Linked DNA regions of Homo sapiens: region 2 is reported to be linked to region 1. Evidence: microRNA targets listed by miRTarBase, many of them from high-throughput screens and not tested one by one. Region 1 holds a microRNA gene; the other region holds the end of a gene's coding sequence.

Region 1 (3,394 bases):
AACCTTATCTGTGCGAAGCACTCGGATACTTTTTTTTTTTTTTGAGGCAGGGTCTTGCTCTGTTGCCCAGGCTAGAGTGCAGTGGCACAATCTTGGCTCACCACAGCCTCTGCCTCCAGGGCTCAAGTGATACTCCTACCTCAGCCTTCTGCATAGCCGGGACTCCAGGCATGCGCCACCACGCCTGGCTAGTTTTTGTATTTTTTGTAGACATAAGGTTTCACTATGTTGCCGAGGCTGGTCTTGAACTACTGGGCTCAGCTACCTGCCCACCTCAGCTTCCCAAAGTGCTGGGATTACAGGCATGAGCCACTGCACCCGACCGGATATTTTCTATTCTATTTCATTTTGTTAAAATTCCCAATCAGAACCCACTAAATTAATTCTGTGGGCCATCAGTAGGTCACAACTGGCAATTCGAAAAATTGAAACTTTCCAAACTCCGTTGCCCTGTGGGGGCCCCTGTGCATGGCAGATGCTCTGCTTTGTGCGAGGGGAAAAGACCATATGGCTACAGGGCAGGTGGATGAGGGGAGTGGGCGGCAGGCACAGGCAATGAATGCAGGAAGGACTGGGAGGGCACCCACCCCCCAACTGGGGATCCAAGAGGCCAAGGTGGCCTGAATGGACTGACCCCTTCCTGGGTCTCAGCTCCTGTCCCAGTCCCAGTCCAGCCCGCACTCACAGCATTGTCTGGATGGAAGACATAGGAGGCAGGTGAATTGTCCAGGATGAGCACCCGCCGCAGGTCTCGACCCAACCGGCTCAGGTCCTTCACGTAGTTCCCCCGGTGGAAGACGCAGGACTCTCGAAACAGCCGGGCCCGGAAGGCCCCCCATTTGTCCAGCAGGTCAGCTACTGGGTCTGCGTACTGGGAGCAGGAGGTGGGTCATCCTGGGGCCCGCAGGTTCATTGGGCTGCATGCGGGAGGTAGGTAGGAGGGCAGGGTTGCCCCGGGACCCCTGTGGGGCTCACCTTGGCGAGGCTAGCAGTGAACAGCACACATTCAAAGAGCTCGCCCATTCGCTGCAGGAACTCATCCACGTGAGGACGCTTCAACACGTAGACCTGGGGGGCGGGCCAGTGAGGGGGCTGCGGGCCAGTGGGGCAGTGTGGGGGTGGCCGAGGGCTGGCAGGGCATGGGCCAGGGAGGCAGAGGCGCACAGGAAGGAGACTGGGCCCGCAGGCTCCGCTTGGCCAGCTACCCTGACCACTGCTGGGGAAACTGTACCCACCCCCCGCCAGAAAACGATCAAAACTTCCACTCCACTGGCCAGTCCTACCTCACGAGGTCCCTAATTCCCAATCCCTTCCCCTGCCTCAACCTCAGCCTAGTGCAGGAATCCAGGGGCAGCCCCCTCACCCCAAGGCTGCAGGGCACCGGTCCCCGAGCCAAGTAATGGAGAACAGGCTGGACAGCACACAACCTATCCTGAATTACTTGAACTGGGTCCCGGGCAGGGTGGGGCGAGGGAGCACAGCACGGGGGAGCCTAGAGGAGGAGCCCACTCTGCAGGCTTGGAGTCAGCACAAGCCCTTGAGGTTCTGTGTGACTTTGGGACAAGTCTCACACCCTCTCTGGGCCTCTGACATTCCACATGTATCCAATTCCCATCCGAGGCGCTCCGGATTGGTGGGAAGAGCCTAGGGTCTGGAGGCAGATGCCAAGCCCACCACTGCCTCTTCCTGGCCCTCACCTGGTGGACCACCCCATCAATCTCCACAGGGATGATGAAGTCCGCGTTGTTCACTGGCTGTGGGGGGAAAAGAGCTGCTGGAGTTGGAGGAGGAGCCCCAGGGCATGGGGTCCAGCACACACCTCCCTCCCAGGCCAGGGTGGGGGATGCCCCCCGAGACCCGGGCTGAGGGCTGTTGAGCAGGGCCCACCTTGAAGGAGCTGTGCACCAGGGTCTCGTCCAGGTCGATGACCACGCAGATCTTGTCTGAGTCCTGGGCCTTGGCCTCAGGGAGCAGGTATTGGACTGGGGTCTGCTGTAGGGAGGGCGGGGCTGGCTGGGGTGCCTCTCTCCGGGCCTGGTCCTTCCTCCCACGCAGGCTTCTCCCCCTAGCCGTCTCCAGAGGAACCCCAGGCCCCAGGAACAGATACTTCCCCCTTCCCAGCTTTGCCCCTGCCAGCTCTAGGGCTTGGGTAGGCCTCTTGGCTCTTTGAGACCTCTCTAAAAACCAAGGTAGGAAAAAGCTTCCACTTATGAGGGAGAATTCAGTTTCCCCACAGTGGGCAGGGCCTGGCAGGGGAGGCTGCCACCCTCCTACTCTGCACCTTTCAGGTCTGCAAGTCCATCCTGAAAAGCTCAGTCAGGAGCCCCTTCCCCTAAAGCCCTGAAGACTGAGTCCAGGTGCCCCCGTGGCCCCACCTGGCCCCCACGCACCTTAGGGATGGCGCCATTCTCCTCCACAAGCAGGGGCGCCCCGCTGTGAGCAGGCAGGGCCTCCCCATCATCCCGGCAGACACAGCAGAAGAGTGAGTGGAGGATGCCCCGGCTTCGGGGCTTCTGGGAAGCTGCTGACTTCTGGTCACCTGAAGTAGGGAGGCACAAGTTGGAGGCTCGGTGCACACTGGCCTGCAGAATCCTGCATGTGTGCCCAGGTGTGAACCCCTGAGCCAGGAGGATCTTGCCGTGGCCCCTTCATCCAGACACACGAAGGCAGCTCCTGACTTTCTCTGAAACGCCCCTGTCAGGGCTCCACAATCAACTGCAAGGCTCCTGCAGCTCCCAGACAAATAGGTCTAGCAGGTATTAAGGCGCCCACATAGGGAGTGCGTGGCCTGGAGAAGGAGGTCCTGGGGTGCTCTCTCCCTGCCTCTCACAGCCTCCATGACTGCTGCTGATCAGCCCCATTGCGGTGCCTCCTGACCCCACCTTACCTGAGCACCCCTGCTCAGGACAGCCAGGGCCTGGGACCCAGGGCAGTCCACCCCTGCCCTCCCTCCATCCTCTCCACCCCCGTGGGTACGAAGTCCTCACTGCGGCTGGGCCCAGAGGCAGGGGTGCAGTCCCGCGGCCTGGGGCCAGTGTCCAGTGGCCATCTGTTTGCCCTGCCCCGCCCAGACCTCCGACCTGGAGCCCAGCAGCCTGATTGACAGATACCCCTCCCACCCCACCCCCCTCCGGCCCCCTGCAACTAGCCTTTCCACCTTGCCCTCAGTTCCGGGGCAGCCAGACCCAGGCGAGGGTGGGCAGACCTGGGGGCAGCGTCCAGATCCTGAGGTCCACACGGGGAAAAGGAGAAGACAGACCCCCCCACCCCGGCCCAGCCACGCTGGGGGACGCAGCCTCGTCGGGGCGGCGAGGCTTTGCGGGGTGGTGCGTGCCCACTAGGCGCACGACTCTCCCCGCGGGCGCCAAGCGACTCTTGGAAGTGCCGGCCGTCC
Region 2 (3,394 bases), not on the chromosome of region 1:
CCAACGCCTGACCTCAAGTGATCTCCCTGTCTTGGCCTCCCAAAGTGCTGAGATTACAGGCATGAGCCACCACGCCCGGCCTGGATGTTTTTTTTTAAAAATGAGCATAATCGTAGTATCTACCTCATAGTGAGTTAGTACAAGAAAAGCACCCAGCCTGGCCGACAGAGCGAGACCGTGTCTCAGAAAACAAACAAACCAAAAAACAAAAACAAAAAAACCCTAAGGAGGAAAGTGGCATTCTATTTCTAGCATTTTTTCCCCTCATCCCCATTATGGGAGCTACAGCTTAGAATCAATTTCAGCTCTAATCCCTTAGCCTTACAATCACCAGTATCTGCCTTTGACGTCCTCTGAGACCTGCTCTCCTTCGTGCAGGGAGTGCCATGCCCTCGTGGGTGACAGCGTGCTGACAGAGTGGACTGTGAATATTCTTCAAGTACTTGTGGTCCTGGGTCATCAGGGGTTGCATTCTACCCAGTTACAGAGGGTTTCCCATCGAGGAAGCCAGCAGCATCAGAGAAGTGGCAGGGGGCCTTTCCTCCGTGTGTAGGGCCGGCCTTGCTAACCCGAAACATTTCCTAGAAATGTGCTGCTTGCTAACAGCCGCTGCTTCACTTTCAGCTTTCAGAGTCCACTGCTGAATCCCACTTAATGGAGAAGGAACTGGATGAACTGAGGATCAGCCGGAAGAGAAAATGAAGACCCCAGAGACATTTATTGGGGAGTAGGATGTGGCTGAGTGCTTTTTTTTTGGCCAGACTAGCGGATTCAGTCCTGGAAGAGAGTATCATATAATGAGACCCACAGGCACTGGCACCCTTGGGTTGGCAATAGAAGGTGACATGGAATGGAGAAAACCAAGATTCCAGATGGGGATAGTAACTAGAAGGTGCTTCAGATGCACTGCCTGCGGGTGCCAGTCTGAAAACCAGACCGCACAGAGGCCTGGGGCTGCTGATGAGCTTTTTGGTGCTCTCCACACACAAGCTCGCAAACACACATGTCCCAGAATAGCTCTGTTGGGTTGTGTTGGGAGAAGCGGCTGGAGTTCATTCTCTCACCCCCTTATGTTGGTGTTTGGCGTGTGACAGCAGTTCTACAGAGCTCTGTGTTGGGGTCATGGATGAGCGGCTCTCTTGGCTCTTAAAGGCAGGCCTCTCTCTTCTTGCCTTTAAAGAATCCTCCTTCCTCACACCTGGCCTCCTCTGGCTTCAGCTTCTCAGCAGCAAGCACCAGCCTTCCACAACAACACTATATTTTTATGCTACTTTCCTGTTTGCACTACTACTTTTTTATTAAACGATGTTAAATAATCTCTCTGTGACCAAAGTGACTAAAAAGAGAACCATGAGTTTCTCAAGAAGTAAATGGAGCTGGCCAGGCATGGTGGCTCACACCTGTAATCCCAGCACTTTGGGAGGCTGAGGTGGGCAGATCACCTGAGGTCAGGAGTTCGAGACCAGCCTGGCCAATAGAGTGAAACCTCGTCTCTACTAAAAATACAAAAATTAGCCAGGCGTGGTGGTGGGCACCTGTAGTCCCAGCTACTTGAGAGGCTGAGACAGGAGAATCGCTTGAACCCAGGAGGCAGAAGTTGCAGTGAGCCGAGATCATACCATTGTACTCCAGCCTGGGCGACAAGAGCGAGACTCCGTCTCCAAAAAAAAAGAATTAAATGGAGCCTGGCCAGGTGTGGTGGCACACACCTGTAATCCTAGCACTAGCACTTTGGGAGGCTGAGGCGGGCTGATTGCTTTAGCTCAGGAGTTCAAGACCAGCCTGGCAATAGCGAAACAAAATACAAAAAAAAAAAAAATTAGCTGGGCGTGGTGGTGCACACCTGTAGTCCCAGTCTCTCAGGAGGCTGAGATGGGAGGATCACTTTGAGCCCAGGGAGGTTGAGGCTGCAGTGAGCTGTGATTGCTCCACTGCACCCCAGTCTGGGTGACAGAGTAAGACCCTGTCTCAAAAAAAAAAAAAAAAAAAAAGTAACTGGAGCCTGGAGTCTAAGCCTCTGTTGTTCCATCAAAAGACAGAATTGGCCGGACGTGGTGGTTCACGCCTGTAATCCCAGCACGTTGGGAGGCTGAGGTGGGTGGATCGTCTGAGGTCAGGAGTTTGAGACCAGCCTGGCCAACATGGCAAAACCCCGTCTCTACTAAAAATACAAAAGAAAATTAGCTGGGTGTGGTAACACATGCCTGTAGTCCCAGCTACTTGGGAGGCTGAGGCAGGAGAATCACTTGAACCCGGGAGGCGGCCACTGCACTCCAGCCTGGGCGACAGAGCAAGACTCTGTCTCAAAAAAAAAAAAAAAAAAAAAAAGAATGTTTAGTGTGTGGGGAACTGTCACTCTTGTAGGAGAGCATTCCAGCTTTCCTGGGCATTGGCAGAGGCTGATGCCAAACAGAAACAGTCTCTCTGCTCAAAATTCGCCTGCCCTCCTGCTTCATGGTGTTGGGACTGGCCAGGACCTGGCAGGAACCTAATGGTTGGTGTGAGAATTTGTGCCGTAGGCAGTATGAGCTGGACTTTTCTGGCAAGAGGAGGGAATCCAGCTCCTGAAGTCAAGCGGGAAGGAACTGAGGGGGTGGAGGTGGGGGCATGGTGCCCAGGGCTTTAGACTAGGGACAGGCTACCATGGTTAGCCACTTCTGAATGCCCGGTACATGCCTGGCACCAGGCTCCCTTTGCTCTCACTGTCTCATTTCCCCTTCAGCTCAGCCCTGTGTAGCAGGGGCTATCGGCACATCCATCTGCAGAGAAGGAAACTCTGGGAGGTTCAGACACTGATCTAGGATCACACAGTAGAAGTGCTGGAGCTTGATTCACACAGCCCGCTATGAAAGAGAGGAGCTGGGGGCGGCCTCAAAGGGAGCTGCTGTCTGCAGTCCATCCTTACGGCCAGCAAAGCACTCTATGGGGGGGATGGATCGAAGGGCAGATTTGTAGCTCCAACCCATAACCTGACTTTCTGATACAGGAGAGAATGTTTAATACAGAAGAAATTGGAAAAGGATCCACATATATGCAAGGTGTAAATCTTCAGGTGCAGATAATAGGAGCAGTGGAGTTTGCTTATGCCTCGGCCGGTATCACTGGGGACCCTTTATTAATATTCCTGATGCTGGACACCTCCCGATGCTGGACACCTCATTTGCATGACACTCTTTCAAGTTTGTTATCCCCATCACCATGTTTTAGATGAGAAAACCAACCCAGCACAGTGACACAGTGGAAGGGTGGGGCCAGGACTGAAGCCTTGGGCATCATGTGGGCATATTTCGTTGTCACAATGGTGTGGATCCCCCCATGACCAGCACCATTAGGACCTTTGGGGGTTGCAGCCAGGAACCCTAAACATCCTGTGGTAGGAGGGGCAGTTCTGCAG

The links. The annotated mature microRNA hsa-miR-26b-5p reads UUCAAGUAAUUCAGGAUAGGU and lies in region 1 at 1,426-1,446, opposite strand. An mRNA with a match to its seed (bases 2 to 7 or 8) in the 3' UTR can be bound and repressed. Matches are read on the target gene's strand: a 7mer-m8 pairs with bases 2 to 8, a 7mer-A1 pairs with bases 2 to 7 and ends in A, and an 8mer does both.
Region 2: the mRNA of CBY1 is a reported target of hsa-miR-26b-5p. The part of its 3' UTR that is shown has no 7-base or 8-base seed match.

What each region holds. Positions count from the first base shown.
Region 1 is chr2:218,400,709-218,404,102 of GRCh38, reverse strand. It overlaps MIR26B (microRNA 26b), which reads right to left and starts at 1,457; the gene lies at 1,381-1,457. It overlaps CTDSP1 (CTD small phosphatase 1), which reads right to left. Exons shown (of 7, transcript NM_021198.3): 2 at 2,391-2,539; 3 at 1,888-1,992; 4 at 1,698-1,754; 5 at 976-1,068; 6 at 686-871.
Region 2 is chr22:38,672,535-38,675,928 of GRCh38, forward strand. CBY1 (chibby 1, beta catenin antagonist) reads left to right here. Exons shown (of 5, transcript NM_015373.4): 5 at 625-1,316. The coding sequence ends at 702. TOMM22-DT (TOMM22 divergent transcript) reads right to left here. Exons shown (of 2, transcript XR_007068097.1): 2 at 2,982-3,394. Among named protein-coding and RNA genes, the nearest start is that of TOMM22-DT, 7.6 kb to the right of the region's middle.